4 separate regions of the Homo sapiens genome follow, and regions 2, 3 and 4 are each linked to region 1. Evidence: fine-mapped QTL for protein levels in blood plasma. A gene starts in region 1. Each other region holds a variant in brackets. All regions are shown on one strand. Distances are from middle to middle. Region 1 holds the start of FST (follistatin). Region 2 overlaps ARL15 (ARF like GTPase 15). Region 3 has its middle 31 kb from the start of FST. Region 4 overlaps ARL15 (ARF like GTPase 15).

What was found. A credible set is the group of variants that fine-mapping cannot tell apart. PIP is the posterior inclusion probability: the model's chance that the variant is causal. Protein levels are from antibody-based Olink assays in UK Biobank. Linkage for the fine-mapping came from a reference panel and not from the study's own genotypes, which makes the PIPs less certain.
Region 2: its variant is the best candidate, but not a certain one, in a credible set for the plasma level of the FST protein (UK Biobank, PIP 0.71).
Region 3: its variant is the best candidate, but not a certain one, in a credible set for the plasma level of the FST protein (UK Biobank, PIP 0.88).
Region 4: its variant is the best candidate, but not a certain one, in a credible set for the plasma level of the FST protein (UK Biobank, PIP 0.56).

The regions. Positions count from the first base shown.
Region 1 is chr5:53,477,665-53,482,815 of GRCh38, reverse strand. FST (follistatin) reads right to left here and starts at 2,187. Exons shown (of 6, transcript NM_013409.3): 1 at 1,940-2,187. The coding sequence starts at 2,024. RefSeq lists an enhancer at 885-954.
Region 2 is chr5:54,008,112-54,013,262 of GRCh38, reverse strand. The region is part of intron 4 of ARL15 (ARF like GTPase 15); the gene reads left to right. Among named protein-coding and RNA genes, the nearest start is that of MIR581, 59 kb to the right of the region's middle. The variant A/T (reference allele first, on the strand shown) is at 2,544.
Region 3 is chr5:53,446,758-53,451,908 of GRCh38, reverse strand. No RefSeq gene overlaps it. Among named protein-coding and RNA genes, the nearest start is that of FST, 31 kb to the left of the region's middle. The variant A/C (reference allele first, on the strand shown) is at 3,148.
Region 4 is chr5:54,021,515-54,026,665 of GRCh38, reverse strand. All of the region lies in intron 4 of ARL15 (ARF like GTPase 15), which reads left to right. Among named protein-coding and RNA genes, the nearest start is that of MIR581, 72 kb to the right of the region's middle. The variant G/A (reference allele first, on the strand shown) is at 2,979.

The sequences.
Region 1 (5,151 bases):
CGAGGTGGCTAGCGAAGGAGACCCGGCGGGGATGGGGAGGGGGTGAGCGTGGAGGAGGGGAAGTGAGAGAGACGCGGGAGAAAAGTAGGAAATAAATCGAAAGGGGTGGAGGGGTGGAAAAAGAAGGCAGTGGAGGGGGAAGCCCTGATCACAGAGATGGGAGGTGGGCGAGAGGGAGGGAGGGAGAGAGGGAGAAGACAGGGCGCCCCAGCCATATCAATGTCAGTTACCAGTGACCCAGACACAACACGTGCAGCTTGCATTGACTTTTACTAGACTGTTTACTTTTATTCGTCCCATTTCATAACCTGCAGAGACTCGAAGAGCAGATTAAAGAACCTGACAAAAACAGGATGCGACGGATGTTTTTACATGCTGGTTTCATGTAGGCGGGTACAGGAATTATTTGTGACAGGGGTTAAGAAAGTAAGAGAACGAGAGAGAGGAGAGAGGAGAGATGGAGGGGAGAGAGAGGGAGAAGGAAAGAGAAAGAAAGAAAGAAAAGAAAGAAGAGAAAGAAAGAAAAGAAAGAGAAAGAAAGAAAAAAAGGAAGAAAGAAAGAGAGAGAGGAAGAAAGAAAAGAAAGAGAGAGAGAGAGAAACAGATCAAGCAAAAGGCACTTCTGAAAAATGAAAGCAAAAAAGCAACCCGGCCCAGCCCGGAGCTACCCCGCGCGGCCTCCAGGCGCAGCCAGCCCGACGGGCCCGTTTTGCAATCCGCCAGACCGGAGCACGCCCGCGGCCACCGCGATCTTTCGAAATCTCCGAGGGCTGCTTTCCTCCGCGCCCACGTCCGGGCACCAGGCAGAGCCTCTCCTCTAAAGGCGGGCAACCCAGCGCAGTGCCATGCAGACGGCGAGGGGCAGTGCCCAGGAGGGCAGTTTACAACATACTTAAAATGTTAACGCTGAAGCAGGGAAAGTAATGCCTTAAGGTGGGGGGAGGGGGGAGTCTTCCTACCATTTCACGGTTATAAGTACCTATCTCATACCTAGCAAGAAATATTTGCAAGTGATTTCTCCCTCTTCCCCCTTTTTAATGTTCGGATTTGGGTCGAGAAGACTTCTCATGAATCACCAATATGACTTTAACAATCATTGGATCGCAAGCTGCTATTATTATTTTAAACATTCTGCCCAAAGACTAATTGAAATAAACAAATCTATTTTTAAAAGGCAAGCTTCAGAAATTTGCTCTTAACCCATTTCAGAATTTAAGTCAGTTATGGGCTGCTCACTGTTTTACAGAAAGCTAAGGGTCAGAAAGAAGAATGAGGCAGAGGGGAAAAAAACTGTAAAGTGCTCAAAGCACTTTGGGGTAATAATTTGGCTTTTTTTTTTTTTTTTTTTTTTTTGCGAGAATGGGGGATGGGGTTGGAAGAAGCATCCACTAGGCAGAAAGCTACTTCCCTTGAAAATCTTCAGCACCCACATTTCCAAGTTTGGGCAAAGTTTCTGAAACCACGTCCCCCAGCCACCAAATAAAATTCAGTATCTCTCCCCCAAACCCCCAGGTTTTCTTTTCTTTCTTTCCTTTTTTTTTTTTAAGTATCCAAAAGATGTGGGAGGGAGAGAGATGAGACTGCAAATGGGTCGACTGAAATCTCCAGGCTACTACTGATACTTGTTCCCTTCTTCAGAGCCAAACAGAGGAGATCACATCTAAAGTTATCATGGCCAGAACTTGGAGCATTTAACCCTAACTACTAAGACCCCAGCTCGCTCCCTTTCCTTTTTCAAGATAACCGAGCTCCAAACTCAGTTCCCAGTCCTAAAGTGTCATTGCCTACAATTTTCCCACTCCTCTCCATCCCGGAGTCCCCAAGTTGGTTCAACATCTTCCGAGAGCAGCGTTGCTCAGAACAGACCAAGTGGAGACCACAGAAAAGTCGACCCCCCTGTCCTCAGCCAAGCCTCCCCAGCGCATCCCCACTCGCTTACCCTGGGCACTGCGGTCCTCCATGAACTGGCAGAGCAGCAGCAGCAGGAGGCAAAGCCCACCCGGCTGGTGCCTCGCGCGGACCATCCTGGGGGCAGGCGCGGGGCGAGGAGCGCAGCGGCGCGGGGAGCCGGCGCGGCGGCGGGTGGCTCGGGCGAGCGGCGCGCGTCGCAGAGGCCAGCGGCGGAGGGCGCAGCGATCCCGGCGCAGCCCCGCGCTCGCCGCCGGCCGCCCGCGCGATTCAATGGACGTCAGAAGCCGGGCGCAGCCGCGCTTTAAATCTAGACGGGGGTCTCCGCGGTTTGCGGTGGGCGGTCTCCCAGTGTGTGGGGCTGTGGGAGGGCGGCCGCGAGCGAGGGTGTGCGCGGCTCCTTGGGGGTGGGGAGCTTTCAAAAGTTCAGTGTGAATCAGGTGACATTTCCCACCTTCTGGAAACCCTTCCCAATTATCTTTCGGAGGTGCCCGAAATCAAAACGGCTGGAAGGGAATCGTCGAGTTCTTATTTGCGTAGGAGCGAGAGGGAGGGGGAAGGCGACCGGGGCGGGGGTTGGGGGCTACGCGTCGGGGGTGGGGAGTGGGGAAGAACACCCACTTCAAGTCCTGCTCGCCGCCGCTCGCCGGCAGCGCCGGCGCGCCCGGGGTGGCGGGTGTGTGTGTGAGTGTGTGTGTGAGTGTGTGTGCGCGCGCGCGCGAGTGTGAGAGGGAGGGCGCGGTGGGGGCGCTGGAGGCGGTGGCGGGGGGAACCCGGGAGTTTGTCTCCGTGCTGCCTCTCCTCCGCTCCAAAGAGACTTTTGCAAACGGCCGAAGAGCCCCGGGCTGCCCAAATATCCCGCCCCGGGTCGGGTCGGAGCGCGCCGGCCTCGCGGCGGTTCCGGGCACCCGCAGCCTGGGCGCGGGACCCGCGAGGTTTTGTGTCTGGGTCTGTGAGTGCCTGACTTTGCAGCCACCCCCAGCCCAGAGGTGTTGCTAGGAACCCCGGCCCCGGCACCTTCCACCCTGGCAGAGCGCTACCGAGACGCGGCCCTTCGTCTGGACTAGTCGGAAGCAAACAAAAATGTTTAACACCTCAGGCCCGGTCTCCCCGCGGCACAGCCTCGCCCTCTCCCTTTCTTTTCTCCCCTTTCACTTCGCGGCGTCTGGAGTCGGAGCCCGGAGCGGGGGCGCCGACGTAGGCGGTCTGGCCCCCCCTTCCTCTCCCGCCTGGAGACTCCCCAGTTTCTGTCCTGTGTGCCTCTGTCTGTCTCTCAGTCTCCTCGGCTCCAATCTCTCTCTCTTTCTGTCTCGTCTTCTCTCTTTTCGCGGAATAAAAAAGATTGCAACATCCATAATGAACTTCTGTAGCCTCAGTTTATTAAGTACAGTGCCTGGCATTCTTCGCTGAAAGTTGGCGGGTCTCTCATTTATAACATTTTTGGCACCGCTGAATGAAACTGAGGAGGCGATATTTCCTTTTATATAAAACGATTACTTCACGGAAAATGCTATATTGTTTATTCCAAAGCTGCCTTTTAAATTTGTTCTTTTCGCATCTGAAGCCCGAAGGACAACAGATAGCGAAGTATGCAGACAAAATTCTTGGACATTCGCAGGTCACTGGGATTTGTTCTACGAATTTCAAATCTGCCCTTCTTCCCCCCCTGCAACTGCCCTCCCCCCGCCAGACCCTCCCCCAGTCCTCCTCTAGCCCTCCCACCCCCCATCTTCCGTCAACCTTCCCCCCTCCACAACTGCAAATAACTCAGTGATAACAGATTTTTTTCCACCAACTGCAGGAGATAGTGCTAATCTTTTAATAAAAGATCCCATTACAATGGGATCTGTCTGGACAGACTATAATAGATCCCGAAATACAGCCGTGCTAATATTAGAAGACAGTTGTTTGGGTGCCTCTCAGACGGGCCCAAGCCCCCCTTTGAAAGTGGGCATGAATCACAAAGCCCCGCGGCCGCCGCACCTGCACCGCGCGCATTCGGTGCAGCAGGCTGGTAAAAGCGGGTGACCTCGCCGCCGCTTTTCGCTTTATAATTACCGTCATGAGGACGGGAGGGGAGGGGCTCGGGCGGCCCGGGGGAGACTGGATTTTGCTCACTTCAGACGGCTGTGGGGGCTCCACATCCTTCTTAATCTTTCCAGAATCATTCTGTCTGTTTCTGTCTCGCTGTCTCTCTCCCCTTCTCCCTTTCCCTCCAGTCCTCCAACTCATTCCCTCTGCTCTCTTTCCCCTACTCCTTCCCCTCTTCTCTCCTTCCCTCCCTCTACCCAGACTCTACCCGTACTCTCCCTCCCTTTTCTCCCTCTCTTTCTTTTCCAGTCTCCTTTTCTCTCTTCCCTCCAACTCATTAATGTAGAGTTGTTTAGTGCCCTCTAATGGCAGACGACATTAACAATTAATAGCAAACTGTCCCCTTTGCAGGAGCCGCCACTCAATGGCAGAGTTCCAAAGCTGAATTTATTTCTTCTTTATTCAGAGAAATGGTATAGTCCTTATACAATGATGTGCTGGAGGGAAAGTTTGTTTTCTCTGCTTAAAGGTTCCCCCACCCCTGCCCAGGGATAAGTTAAAGGAAAGAGAAGCTAACAAGTATTGTTACTTGACTTTTCCCCCTACCCTGTCTTTTAATGGCAGCAAGAGACACAGCTTCTTTTTAAGGTAGAGGTATCAAACCGTATATCCAAGGTTGAAAAATAAACATTCCAAATGCATAAAAGATCTCAGATGGTAAGTAACTGGATCTTACAGCAATGCTATCAATGATCATACATAATTACATGATTTTATATTTGTCTCCAGTTTAAATATATTTATTGGTCCTGAATTGGCCAGTAGCCTCTGGAAACTGGGGTCTTTTTCTTAGACTTTCCACCCTAGGACTATACAAAATATTTAAATTTTACTTATATGCCTAGTTGTATATGAAGTCATCTTGCCTGGAGAAATATAGAATCACGTTTTAATCCATATTTATTTTCTCAATATCTTTGGGAAGATTGTTTTAAAGTTCATAATCTCATCATATTTTATAACCGTATAGCAAGGAGAATAGTGATATAACTTGTATGTTCTTATTAGATTTTAATTTTGTTCATTCCTATATGTACATATAACATGTTGATGTAAAAGGGTCATACAAGTATACACAAAGATTACCTTTTTGGGGGAAGGTCTGTGTAGCTAAATGAAGATTAGAATAGAAGCAATTTGGAGGGGCTAGTC
Region 2 (5,151 bases), 530 kb before region 1:
CTGACTAGGGATGCTTAACCTATATGAGATAAAACTTACCAACTTAAATTCATTGGCTTGCATATTTTTAACTTGTAAAATGAAATTAGCTTTCTATACTCAGTTTTCAAAACTAATAGAGATGTCTTAAAATTGAATAAAAGAAAGTAGGAAAAAGAAAGAAGTCCGGGCGTGGTGGCTCACACCTGTAATCCCAGCACTTTGGGAGGCTGAGGTGGGTGGATCACCTGAGGTCAGGAGTTCAAGACCACCCTGGCCAACATGGTGAAACTCCGTCTCTACTAAAAATTCGAAAATTAGCCGGGTGTGGTGGTGCATGCCTGTAGTCCCAGCTATTCAGGAGGCTGAGGCAGGAGAATTGCTTGTGAGTGAGCCGAGATTGCACTACTGCACTCCGGCCTTGGCGACAGAGCGAGACTCCATCTAAAAAAAAAAAAAGAGTCCAGCGTGGTGGCTCACACCTATAATCCCAGCACTTTGGTAGGCCGAGGCGGGTGGATCACCTGAGGTTGGGAGTTGGAGACCAGCCTGACCAACATGGAGAAACCCCATCTCTACTAAAAATACAAAATTAGCTGGGTGTGGTGGTACATGCCTGTAATCCCAGGTACTTGGGAGGCTGAGGCAGGAGAATTGCTTGAAGCTGGGAGGTGGAGGTTGTGGTGAGCTGAGATCTCACTGTTGCACTCCAACCTGGGCAACAAGAGCAAAACCTCGTCTCAAAAAAAAAAAAAAAGAAAAGAAATATTATTTTTTGTTGTTTGTTTTTCAACTTGCATAGCCTGGGTTAAATGCAGCCAGTGAGTAATAATGCAAGTCCTCAATCATTCAAGACAAAACTAAATTGTTGTCTTTAGTGATACAAAGGAGAGTGACCAAATAAGAGCTAGGGAACTGAGAGACTTCATGGGATGCATACAAGCATGGAACCCATAAAACAATCAAAACCATGAAGAGGACTATCAGCCAGTTATAGAATCTTTATTTCTGGAAGACTACAATATTTGCTTATCTAAAGGGATGGACAGTATCTTCTCTCATCTCTTTCAGAGCTATTATTTGATCTGAAATATTACAAGGCTATAAAAGGATTTTATAATGTTTGCATGCCATTTTAAGAACACATATAAACAGTGTATTTAAAATCTGTTATTTTTATACAAAGTGATGGTAATTTGTTAGGTATCGCTAGAAATGCTACCTTAAATTTACAATATTTGGTTTGTCTATTAAACATTTATGCTCTTTTTTTTTTGAGACAGAGTCTTGCTCTGTTGCCAGGCTAGGGTGCAGTGGCGCGATCTCAGCTCACTGCAACCTTGGCCTCCTGGTTTCAAGAAATTCTCTTGCCACAGCCTCCCCAGTAGCTGGGACTACAGGTGCGTGCCACCACACGCAGCTAATTTTTGTATTTTTAGTAGAGTCGGGATTTCACCATGTTGGCCAGGATGGTCTTGATCTCTTGACCTCGAGATCCGCCCGCCTCGGTTTCCCAAAGTGCTGGGATTACAGGTGTGAGCCACAACACCCGGCCCTTATGCTCTTTTAAGACCGTAGTTTTCCAGCATTTCCTCCACTGCCTTTGGTTAGACTGCCTGCATTCAAGCTTCCCTTCCTGAATTTTCTGACTTAGCAAGCCTTTTAACTTCGGTGTCTTAGGTTGTTTTAGGTTAAATGTTCTGGGAAAGAAGTTAAAAATGGAACTCATGCTATTTTTCACCCTAACCACCTATATAATCACTATCAAGTTTCTACCCATGAAGAATAGTATTTCCAAATACTGACACCTTTTTCTGTTATTTATTTAAAAACAAACAAAAAACAAAACAACAACAACAACAAAAAACCAACCTCTTCTGATTACAGGAGAAATGTGCTCATTTTAAGAAATGCACACATTACTGAAACGGGTCATATAGAAAGTTGAAGTTCTGTGTAATACAACTTTTTGAGGTAATAATGGTGGAAGTTTGGTGAAACACTTAAATTTTACAGTTTTATAATCTACAAAGCCATAATGTATAGAACTCTGGATATTCACAGTATATATTTCTAAAGGTTGAATTCCTTATATGCCAACTTCTGTGAAACTACACTTATTTTCACTCTAGAGACTTAACCTTGAATCGTGAAATCTGCTCACGGAGGGCTTTTTCCACTCCCGGCACAGGCTAGGCATCTGTCTTATAATTTGGCCTTTTATCACTTCACTAAGGACTTCTTCCACAGTCTTTGTGAGAGCTGATTTTTTTTTTTTTTTTTTGAGACGGAGCCTTGCTCTGTCGCCCGGGCTGGAGTGCAGTGGCGCGATCTCAGCTCACTGCAAGCTCCGCCTCCCGGGTTCACGCCATTCTCCGGCCTCATCCTCTCCGAGTAGCTGGGACTACAGGCGCCCACCACCAAGCCCCGCTAATTTTTTGTATTTTCAGTAGAGACGGGGTTTCACCGTGTTCTCCATCTCCTGACCTCGTGATCCGCGCGCCTCAGCCTCCCAAAGTGCTGGGATTACAAGCGTGAGCCACCGCCCCCGGCCTGATTTTTTT[A/T]AAATTTTTTTTATTTTACTGATTTGATGGAGTCATTGTTGGGATCAATAAAATAATGCGATAATTTCTTCAGAAACCATTGTCATCTTTAGATGTCCTTGGTGTTGGACAGTCTTGGGCTTTGTATTGCAGGTTATTATTATTTTTTATTTAGCTGGCGGTTATTCAGAGCCAAGTCTGGTGAATATTTTGAATCATGTTGGTTCCCTTCCAGATATGGTCAAAGATGAGGTGATATCTACTAGGCATTGAGACTGTTTGTCTTGAATGTCTTGTTAACTAACTCTCTAGATAATTCCAGTGGAAATACTAATGTTTAGCAGTGACAGTATCAATTGGAATATTGCCTATCTTGACAATTTTTTTAGACCAGTGTTTTGGAAGTCTTAAATTTGTAGCTCATTTATTGAAAAATCAATCTACTTGTTTTACTTCATTGTCATTGCTTTGACACTTATAAAGTAATTATTAAATGTAAGGTGAATGTTACTACTATGCATGGATTGTTTAGCAAATCTCCTGTTCAAGGAGCAGATTTTTAGTCCTGTTGAGCCTGCCCTTCAGGAAGAAATGAAGTGAGTGGGGCAGTGTTTTTGTGTTTTTCGGGAGGGCTTTCCTTTTACTCAGGTCTGCTAAAAGAATGCAAATCGCTTCAAAACAGTCATCATTCTCCCTTTCTTTGTGGCCTTATGTGTTGGTCTTAATCTCCTCCTTTCTGTCTTTTTGTTTTTGTTTTTTTCCTCAGTAAAGAGAGTCAGGAGCCTGCCCTTTCCTCCCTTTCTCTCACCTCACCTCCAGGGTGGCCTGAGAATTGAGGAAGAACCTTAAATTCTGCTCTTTGTTAAGAGCTCTGATAACTGGAACTGTTGGAATATTGCTAAAATGGGTTTTGGAGATGTTCCCTACTCTCCCTGCCTGCCATTTCCACAGATTACTGAGGATTGGCTCTGTTGCCAAATGAGGCTGATATTGAGCCTCAAATTTTGACCCATTTTTCATCAAGTTTGTCTTAATATAGAAGTTGCAAGATTTAGTAGTGCAGCAATTATTGTTCTTATAGAAAAAGTCAACTGCATGTTTGCTGAATTCCATCTCTTGGGCTGAAGACAAAAGAGTTTGTGCACAATATTCGCAGTCCATAGTGTTGTAAGCAGGAATGTCTGCAGCAGCCAGAGAGTTCAGGGCAATGTTTTTTGACCTGAAACAGTTACCTACCTAGCAAATGTAATACAAAGCCTAAGTATTACTTTCTATGGAATGTGGGGTGTTTCATAACTAAACAAATCAGTGATGCTGGAATAATATGCTTTAAAAAAACCTTACAAATCTATATTTGAGTGAATGAAATGAATGTTAGAAAGTTTACAATTTTTATGGAAAGCTGGTAATTTTAGGTTGTTGGGTGGAGGAAAAGGAGGGCAACACACTTTGCTAAGTTACTTGAAGTTCCTGCCAGTACTGCTGCCTTCTCCCAAATGATTAAAAAGTCGAAAGCAACTTTGTGGCAATTTAACAATGATGGCAAATACACAGAAATGCAGGGAGATCTTTCATTTAGGCTGTCAAAGATCAGTGGGAATTAAGGCACCTTTGCATTTACATATATAATATGAAGCACCTTTTGTTTTATATTTCACAAATTCTAATGGACATTTTATTTATAATGAAACATGAATACTACTGCCAGGATATTCTAATGAAAATGATCAGCTCATTTTCAAAACCTTAAAATAATGAACATAGAAATAATTTCTAGTGTCTAGTTCTGTAATCTTACATTAAAATAGTTTCTTGGACCTCCAATCAGCCACAATACTGAAATGACAATGCCAGAATAGATAACAGAGATGCAAAATGATTTCCAGTTAATGACATTTTATCTTATTAACGTAAGTATTAACATTTTAATCTACCAGAGGAAAGAAGACTCAAATATTAAAAGAAGAATTCTCTGGAGCAGTTTACAAACATTTTGGGAAAACAAGGATGAAGCACAGGGACTGGGAAAAGATTTCAGTGTTTCTCTTGTTCACATGACAGAGTAGCAGTCAAAATACACCCCTGTGATTTGTCGCATCTGTTAGAAATGCTGCAGTAGCTAAAGGGACGTTCCCTGGCTTTGGTGAAGAAATAAGTAAACAAGCCAGTGTAAAGAGAAAACCCTGGTTAGTGATCAGAGGCCACATTCTCCAACCCCTGCAAGTTCTAGCTTCGTGTAATGCCAGAAAGAGAGAGGTCAAAAGTCTGAGAGAACTTTTGTTATGAAAAGTGTTTGTTTGTATTTTTAAAATTTTGGATAACATAATCCAGTGCTTTGGGTACAAAGGTTTGAGCAATCGGCACCATTTTAATAATGCATTTAGTAGTCGCAATGCATTAACACTTAAAGAGATAGAGTCTAAAATGCAGTTCATGTACACATTTCACAGTCTGCCTGATATTTATTAAGACACACCTTCTTTTCCCTAGATACCTTTTCTCACTATTTCTGTCTTAGGTGGTTACTCATCTCTCCTCACTCTTACATGTAGTGTTTTAAAATTTCATATATATGCCCAGAGGACTCTTGGCATTTAAACAAGTTTCTCTACATTAAAAACAAAAAGTC
Region 3 (5,151 bases), 31 kb after region 1:
TGAAATCCAGTTGTAATCTGACTCCTTTTAATACTTATTATCAACTGTGATAAAGAATTAACTTGTATAACTTGAATGATATATGCACACTTAGGACAAAATTCAGCAATAACAATTTTCATTTGATTCTTTCTTACTTTGATTTGTGATGGGCTTTGGCATGGTTTGGTATGGTAAATGTTGATATTTTCCCTTCTGGAATTTCCAGATTTTCTTTCTATTGATAGAGATAGACATTTTAGCAATTTATTTGCAATCTAGGCCTCTCAGCCATCTCTTTTTCCCCAGGACACCTATTTATATTTCCATCTCTTGGTTATCCTTAAGCATAAAGTCAACATGAACTACTTCCTGTGACAGCAAATCCTGGTTAGAGCTCTCTGGGGTATGAGGATTCCAGTAAAGAGTTGTCTGAGATGGGACTACTAGGGATTGGTCTTGTCAATTCACAAATATTTATTAAGCACCTGCTCTGTGCCCTACTCTCCAGCAAGGTATAATTATTTTTGTCTTTTCACCACTGTATTCCAATGCCTAGTAAAAGCCTGATGAATATTTTTTGAATGAATAAATCCTTGGGAGATATGGAGGCTGCTCTTGGGGTGGGGGGAGAGGGCAGCTGGGCAGAGGAGTAGAAAAAGAACCATTAACCATGCTCCTACTATGTGCTAGGCCCTATGTTTACACTTTCCACATATTGTGATGCACATTTTACAAGAGCACTTTGAGGTAGATGTGGCCTTTATTTTCCACGAAACCCTTGTTTTCCCAGCTGGAGAGCCAAGGAGTAAACTTGGAATCACATAAACAGTATCATTGTGTTCCTAGTTCTGTACTTACACTGTCTCTATTGACAGACCTTAGCTCTTCCAAAGCCCCCCTCAACTATTATGGAAAATGTCTGGGGGTGTCCTCTGTGTACTCATGAAAAGAGGCTTCTTTGCATTTGCCACTGCCCTTCCATTTGTCACATTGTGTCTACCATTTTTTGGCCCCACTGGTCTCCTGCTATAATGTTTCCACCTGTGGATTTCCCCAGGGGTTGAGTTGTTCATTATTCTATGCTCCTGAGGCTGCTTCACTGTCACATGGCAGCCCATTTGGCCCACAGATGATGCCACAGTGTCATGGAACTGTGAGAAAAACAACTTGGTGACTAGATGATCTTTCTCTGGCAGAGGACAAAACATCTGGAGGGAAGGGCTGGCCTGGGCAAGGCACTTATCTAATGTGCTCCTCCAAGGGTGTGAAAGACAGAGGCACAGAAATCACTGCTATGCTGGAGGTGGAGGGTGCATAGCTGGAGCTTCAGGGTAAAGAGGTCACTGTCTGGCTCAGACCACCTCACAATTAAGTTTGTTGTTAAAATAAATCTTCCAACCCCACAGAAGAAGAATAAAGATTGGAAAGGCTTGGCATCCAATGGGAAATGCCTCAAGGGAACAAGTGATATGTCCTTTTCAGAGATCCACAAAGGTTTAGCTAGGAGGGATGTATGACAGGAATAAAAAGCCTGTAAAAAACTTATAGCTTTTCCTCTTTCTCTATTTCTGCAGGAGAAAGTGTCATTTTTACTTCAGCAGTTCCAGGAAGTAGGATTTTGTTTTGGTTAATGTCTATGTCCGCTATTGGAAAGAGCCCCCAAAGTCTAAATTGGTATAGAAGAAATAGGGCAGAAAGCAATCTTTGGAAGAATAATAGATTCAGTCTCAAGAGGTAAGGGGATAATGAAAGGAATAAACTGCAGCATGGACTGGAGTTTTAAGGGTGGAAAATGTAAGTGAGAAAAGAATGATTATTGAGCAGCTGTTAAGAAGACTTCAGAGATAATGATGGAAAAGGAGGAGCTTTAGGATATTTGCTGTGTCTCTTTGAAAAAATGTCAGTAAAAATTTAAGATATTTTCAAGAGTATCCTTGGGTTTTGGACTTATGTTTCTGTTGAATTCAGCACTGATCTTAGACTGGTCATGAGAATAGTTCAGCTATATTTGTGTTGCCATTGTATTAAAGAGCCAAGGTGAAGCCATGAAACCATTGATCAATGGAGTGATGGATTATGAAGTTCTGACAATATGAGTTTCCAGAGACCAGACAAAGCCAGAATCAATATGGGCTGTGGTTGTTGGTAAAGGTTTTAAAGAGCTCCATGGAACATAGCTGGGAATTAGATCTAACAAAAAATATATAGGATTTGAATAAGATGAGGAGAAAAAAGGACATTAGGTAGTAGAAATATCCCAAGTAAAGGCATCAAGGTAGGAATGAGCATTGCATGTAAGGGGAATAGTCAGTTCAGTCTAAGTGAAAGAGAAAATGGAATGATAAATAGTAATTGGGAATTAGAATCTATCAGTAAAGTTAGTATGTATTAGAGGTCAGGTTATGCAGGTTATAGAGGATTTTAGATTCTGAGAGTGATGAGAACTAGGGATTGAGAAGGATTATCTGAAGAAAGAAAGTAATTGAAATGGAGGGAGCCTGGAGACACTTTTTTTTTTTTTTTTTTTTTTTGAGACAAGGATCTCTTACTCTGTCACCCAGACTGGAGTGCAGTGGTGTGATCATAACTCACTGCAGTCTCAAACTCCTGGGTTCAAGTGATCCTCCCCACCTCAGTCTTCAGAGTAGCTGGGACTACAGGCACATGCCACCACATCCAGCTAATTAAATGTTTTTTTTGTTTGTTTGTTTGTTTTGTAGAGATGGAGTCTCTTTATGTTGCTGGGGCTGGCCTTGAACTTCTGGCCTCAAATGATCCTCCCACCTTGGCCTCCCAAAGTGCTGGTATTACAGGCCTGAGCCACCATGCTTGGCCTGAGGCTTTTTAAAAATCCACATGGGAAGCATTTTAGGGTTTGGACTCAGTTGGGAGAAAATGTTGAAAGGATGAATCATAGGATTTTGTAACTGATTAGATGTAGATGGCAGATGTGAGACCAGAATCAAATATAATTCTAATTTTTCTGGTCTAGAAGTTTTGGAGCATTATGGCTTCATCCTTTCATTTATCCACTTAATATTTTCATTTATTCAAGAAATATTTATTGAGTACGTGCTGTATTTTTGGTACTGGGATACAGAGAATAAAGATATCAAAAGCTCCCCAACCTTATGGAGCTTATGTTCAAGTGAAACAGATAATAAA[A/C]ATGTAAATAAGGAAAATATGTAGCATGTTAGCTGTTGATGAATTATTTGAAGAAAATTAAACAGAGAAAGGGAATAATGAGTTGGGAGTATATGAAGAAGGTACAATGATAAATAATTAAAGTAGGAAAGCTGGTAAAGAAGATAGTTGTCAGAGAGATGGACAAAAAACGTGAGTTTGGACGCATAAGTAATATTATTTTCTGGAAAATGTAGGCCAAGAATTCTTATGGGATGTTAGGAATGGAAATATATGTTTGGGAGCCACCAGCATAGCTGTAGTGATTGAGGCTGGCATCCCCGATTGAGGCAAGCCTGAAGACTCAACCTTGGAGGCTACCCATTTTTAGAATTCTTTGGAAAAAGGAAGAAGACCCAGGGAGGGAAGAACAGTCTTCATGATGCCAACAGGTTTAGAAAGAGAGGCAGGAAAGAAAAAGAACTTAGTCCTTATGAATGTTTTCACTTCTGTTATGTAGGTGATAACTAAAAGGTCTAAGTCATCAATCTTTTCCTGTACCCACAGTCTTAATCTTCCTCTGGTAATGTCTTATGACAGTTCCTGCAAATATCAGGAAGATGGCAATGAACCACTTTGTTGCTCAGAAATGGATAACCAAAGTGAAATTTACTTTTCTCTAACACTAAAATGAACCACTGAAATGATAGTGTCCTAAACAGTAGGTGCCTTATAAGTACTGAAGACTTTGTAGAAATATTTATTTCACAACTAACCCATCCACCCACCCTCTGTAAAGCACTTATACTATGTATCTTTATGCCATAGTCCCAGCCTTGAGGTTTTATAATCTAGCATGAACAATACCAATGTGGCATGTTATGAAGGGTCTTTAGACAGGAAAAAGCCTGTAAGTAAATATAATACATGAAACAAAAAGTAAATAGGTAGTTGACTTACATTGTCTTCGGAAGTGCATGGCTTACCAATTAGGCAATTACTTGTGCTCATTTTTACAAGGTAATGTTACTAATCCTTTCCAATAAAGTCAAGGCTGATTATGTATCTGTTATCTGTTTCCTCTGCATTAGAATCTGTTTTTTTAAATTTTAAAAGATTACTAAGATATACAAATCAAGCAAGAATGCTGTAGGGCTCAGAGGGATTGAACTATGAGTCTTAGCCTGTGAATTGTAAAGGTACCCTCTGCTGACACTCTTGTGTGAACTCGTAGGCTGGTATAACAGACAACAGCGATGCAAAAACAAAACAACAACAACGACAACAACAACATAATTCCATGAGACTTTAAGTGATTGTGACCTACATCTCACATTACAAAAATGTTATATATTAATGACCTCTTGTAAAATCAGTGTGTATTCTATTGAATGGAAATTTAATGAGAAAAAAATGGAGTAACATTTAATATTGGTCAAAAACTCTTAACTCACTAGTTTTAGAGAGTTAGTTTACTACCTCTTTGTTCTGTTCATTAACTTGCATGGGAATTAAAACAATCATGAATAATGGAAGTGATTGCAACACAAATTCCTTATCTTATAACAATGCCACATGAAACTAGTAGAGGCTGAAAATATTTGTTTCTATCCTTACATTACACAGCCCATCTTTCAGTGATGGAAAGAAGCAAGTGATCATCTTTAGTCTTGATGCTCATGAATTATGAGTCATCCTCAGCTTGGGAATCTGGAATTGTTGAGTAGTATTAGCCCTGACTTGCGAGCTCATGTTTTGCTATTGGAAACAAGTGCTTCCATTTCCACCCTGTGTTCTGCCCTTTTTTTCTCTGAAGTTCAGGACTTACAAAATTTTCAACTTGAATATTTTTAACTGTTGCTTTTTTTTTTTTTTTTGAGACGGAGTTTTGCCCTTGTCACCCACGCTGGCGCGATCTCGGCTCACTGGAAGCTCCGCACTACCGCCGCCCCTCCCCCCAGCCCCCCCCCACCCCGCCCCCAATCTCTTGACCTCATGATCCGCCCACCTCGGCCTCCCAAAGTGCTGGGATTACAGGAGTGAGCC
Region 4 (5,151 bases), 540 kb before region 1:
TGTAACTAGATTAGGAATTTTACTCCTTACAATCTCAAGAAAATTTCCCTTGGCTCTCTTGAATGTTCGACTCAGAATTATAAATTGAAAGGTATAGGCCAGGCACACTGGCTCACACCTGTAATTCCAGTACTTTGGGAGGCTGAGGTGGGAGGATCACTTGAGCCCAGGAATTCAAGACCAGCCTGGCCAACATAGTGAGACCCCATCTCTGCAAAAAATACAAACATTAGCCGGGCATTGTGGTGCACACCTGTAATTCCCAGGTACTCAGGAAGCTGAGTTGGGAGGATCACCTGAGCCTGAGAAGTCAAGGCTGCAGTGAGCTCTGATTATGCCACTGCACTCTAGCCTGGGTGACAGAGTGAGACCCTGTCTCAAAAAATAAAGAAAGAAAATAAATTGAAAGCTATAATTTTGGTATGTGACAGATTATAAGATAGACTTTGATTTTTACTATGTGCAGAATATGATTTTTATTCACTTAATAATTATTTCTTGAACACAATATGTGTCAAAGTTGAAACAAGCTAGTCAGTCTAAAAATTCAGCATTAACTCAGTTACTAATGAAAAACTATAAGGAAATGATTTAACGCATGAAATTATTTACTTCTTTGATAAATGGTCATCACCTTGGTACTAAAAATGTATTTAGGTTTTCTTGGTTTGTTTTTAGAAATTATCCCATCAAGCCCTCTGCTTCTTGGTAGAGGCTATTATAGGAAGTTGGTATTTCTAATATTCCTCCCAAAGAGGCACCTTAAGAAATAACAATACCTATGATTTGAAAAGTTCTATAAATATTTCTAAGAAAAAGTTCCAAGAAGATGCACAATATTCAAGGCAAGTAAAATCCTCCCGGAAATTATTACTGTTATAAGATGATGCTCTAGTAGCATAAAATATTCAAAATCCCTTCCTGGTCAATTTATCCCTGGGAAATAGCTTTCTCACTAATGTGATCGGATTGTAATTACCGAAACAAACAAACAAACAAACAAACAAACAAACAAATAACTTGCCAGTAGCATAGGATCTTTCCCACTAAACTGAGGAAAGAAAAGCAGTGATTATCCCTTATCACTTGGTATTGCTTTTATTCAGAAAGAAACACATGTCTTTTCGTTATAGCACTTTCCGATTTTTAAATTCTTGTTCATGAAAATGTGATTATGATGTACTAGAAATTTGCCTCAGGTTCTTTATCAGTCCAGCATCTTATATTCAAGGTTCCAATTAATTTTAAGAAATTGAATTAAATTCTCTGTTTCCTTACAGAATCGCCTTCACAAGCCATGATATTAGGTTTGCTGTTCTTGGCATGGGAAGTGCTTTCAATATGTGACTGTTGTTTGCTTTTTTTTTTTTTTTTTTTTGGTCCCTTTGTCTCTCTGCAATCATATCATATGTGTGTATTCAACTAGCAGATATAAGAAAACTCAGGTGAGGGTAAACTTAAGCTTTTGGTCGCTATCCTCACTTTCCATTTGTTCCACAAAGAAAGGATTGTTTCATTTCCATTTAGTGGCAGGAAAGTGCTCTCATGTTTTTCTGTAGATATCAAATCTGCCTGGGATTTGGCCCTACTTTTCCTTTATCTTTATTGGTTTTAGTAAAAGTGGAAAATTTATGTTAAAAAATATGTGTATATAACATAAACACACATACTACAAATAGACATATAAAACCTACTTTTATCATTTTTTGTATCACTTTATGTTGAACACTTCATGAAATGTTTATTCCACATTAACTTATTTGGTAAATGCATAAAAAATGTTTTTTTCCTTCTTGAATTGCCTTTTCAAAAGCCTCTGGATTTTATATGTTATACTTTGTGAGTATTTGTATTAACTATAGATATACATATGTATTTGTATATATATCTCTTTTCTTGACACTACAAATTCTTTATCCAGATTATTGAGTAATAGGTTGTTATTGTTAGCTGTTCTGGTTAAATATGAGTAACCATATGTTGTTTAGATATGAGGAAATAGGGTTATGTGTTATGATGAACATAAATACATTCTTCTTGAATATTTGCAAAGTAACTCATAGGCTTGCTTAGGAATCCTCATTATACATCTTATTCCTGGAGACATAATAATTATATGAATTGAGTTAGTACCATACCGACCCTAAAATAACAAGTAAAATTGTATCAGATATTAATTTTAAAATTGTGTCTTTTTACTAAGTTTTTATACAATACAAAGTATTAAAAAGTATGGATAAATCTAACATCGCAGTACATGTTACTCACGAATTTGGTTTTCTTCACAAATCTGCAAAAGTACCATTACCTGCATGTAGCTTCATGTTACATAACTGCCATTGATTTTTATTTTGGAATAATTATAGAGTCACAGGAAGTTACAAAGATAGCTGAGAAAGATCCTGTGTACTCGTCACCGAGTTTTCTCCATGGTTGCATTTTATAAAACCATATAGTACAACAACCAAGCCAGGAAACTTGTATCGTAGGGGCCAAGGGCAAGCCTCCCTCTTTGCCTTCTGAAGGTTCACTGAAAATCAACTGACAAAAGGCAGATTAATAGGAGAAAAGGCATACAAATTTATTAACACACACAGGGAAGAATCCCAGAGTGATTAATCCACCACATAGTGGGGTGCTGATGGTTATATACCCTTCTTCTCAGGGGAAAGGGTGATGGGGAAGTAGGGATGATTTTAGGAGAGTAGTAAATGATTTTTAGGGGAATTCAGTGGGCTTGAAGAACATACACCGGCCTAGGACAAAGTCTGTTGGGCCAGCAGAGCAGACACGATGGTTCGTGACAAAAACCTGCTCAGGTGTGTTGACAGACTTCAGTCTTTCTTCCTGTGATATGAGTTCAGTTAATGAAAACTCAGGGAAGGGACCAGAGGTGATTGTTTTCTTCTTTGGCAAGTCCAGACTCTCAGCAGATAAGGGAACTTCAGAGAATAACTTCATCTTTTGCTTTGGGAGGC[G/A]CAGAGGATTGAGAGAAGGAAGGGAGGAGGAAGGTCAGAGAGGCCTAAGGCTTCTTCTTCAGTTAAGCACATCAAAGCGCCATATTTTGGTGTATCAGTTTCTGAGCCCCAACGGTATAATGTGTACATATAGTTCCATGTCTTTTTTTTTTTTCACATGTGTAGATTTGGGTAATCACCACCATGATCAAGATAAAGTCGTACCCCTTTAGAGTCAATCCTGTATTTCCCATCTTCGAAAGTCTAGAGCTTAAGTCTGCCATTTCATTTTTTGCTTTTTCGACTTAACCGTCTCTTTACCTTTCACTGTTTTGTTTTTCCTGCCTTCCTGAGGGTTATTTGAACTTTGTTTATAATTGCATTTCCATATATCTGTAATATTTTTAAATGTGTCTGTTTAGATTTTTAGTGTCGTTTTAGGTATTACACTGTACATCCATAATCTTTAACAGCCTATTTGTGTCAACATTTTACTAATTCAAGTCCAATGTAAAAATTATTATCTCTCTCTACATCCCTTTACCCTCCTCATTTATAATATAATTGTCTTAAATATTTTTTATTTTTTCAGTCTAGTTTCTTTCGGTTGTTCAGATTGGGTAATTCCTGTTTTTCAGTCTGCAGGTTCACTGACCTGACTTCTCCATCCTGCTGTCGAGCCTATCCATTGAGTTTTTAATTTCATTATTACATTTTTCAGTTCAACGATTTCTACTTATTCTTCTTTATATCTCCTCTTTGAGAACATTGAGAACCACATCAGACAGTGTTGTAATTTTTTCTTCCACCATCAAACATGATATCTCTCAAGAGGAGAAGGGCATAGGGGTGAAGGGAACTTTCCCTCCATCCTTTGAAGGTTCAATAATTTGAGTCTCTGGAATAAAGTTGACAATATACAGATTAACAGGAGAAAAGGCACACACGTTTATTACATGCATATAGACGGGAGCCCCACACAATATGAGACTCAAAAAAGGGCCTGATGGTGGAAGCTTAAATAGCATTTTGAGCTACAGAAAGAAATAAGGGGCTGGGATTTCTGGTGGGAGGTGGTAACAGGTTATAGAGGTTTGAGGGGAGAAAAATGTGTGATGAGCAGAGGCTGTCTTGTTATACGGATAAAGTCTCTCAGCTAGCAATCTTCAGAATAGGTGGTTTTGACCTTTAGTCTCCTTTCCTGTGAGCTAATCTTCTCTGTTTGATAAGATTATAGAGAGGGGGGCTCAAAGCAATTGCATTTCTTCTGGAGGAACTTCCCTTAGTCAGATAAGGGAACTTCAGAGAAAGCACCTTCCTGCACTTTGGGAGGGAAAGAGGGGCAAGAGATGAGAGACAGGGGCAGCAGGGGACTGGAGGAGGGTGAGGAGAAGGTCAGAGAAACCTTGATTCAAAGCACTCAGCATGCCAAAGCACCATACTTTGGGACATTGTTTCCTGAGCCCCAATAATACTTACGCGTATTTTTGCTCTTTTCAATTTTCCTTATTCCCAGTGTTCCAGTATTTCTTCTTTTTATCATTTCTCTTCCATTTTGATAACTTTCTGTAGCCATTTCTTTAGGGTAGGTCTGCCAGTGACAAATTCTCTGAGTTTCCCTTCGTCTGAGTATGTCTCAATTGCCCCTTCATTTCTGAAGGATATTTTCACTGAGAATCAGATTCTGTCTTGACAGATCTTTTCTTTCAGCACTTGAAAATGTTGCATCATTTCCTTCTGGCTTCCGTGGTTTCTGGGGAGGAATCTGCTGTCATTTTAATTTTTATTCTTCTTTAGGTGAGGTGTCCCTTTCTGCCCTGCTGCTTTGAAGCTTTTTCTTTGTCTTTATTTTTCAGAAATTTCATTATGTTGTATCTTGGCATGGATTTCCATGGGTTTTTCAAATGTTTGAGGTTCTCTAAACTTCAATCTGTAAACTTCTTCAATCATTATGTCTTTTTGCCAAATTTGGGATATTTTCAGCCATTGTTTCTTAGAAGAAGTTTTCAGCCACACCCTCTTTCTTTTTTCCCTCTGAAACTTCAGTGACACAAAGGAAATCTTCGATTATGGTCCCACAGGTTCCTGAGGCTCTGTTCATTGTTTTTAGACTTTTTCTCTTTGTTGTTCAGATTGAGTAATTTCTGTTGTTCTGTTAAAGAAATTCAGGTACGCTGATTCTTTTGTTTTCGCT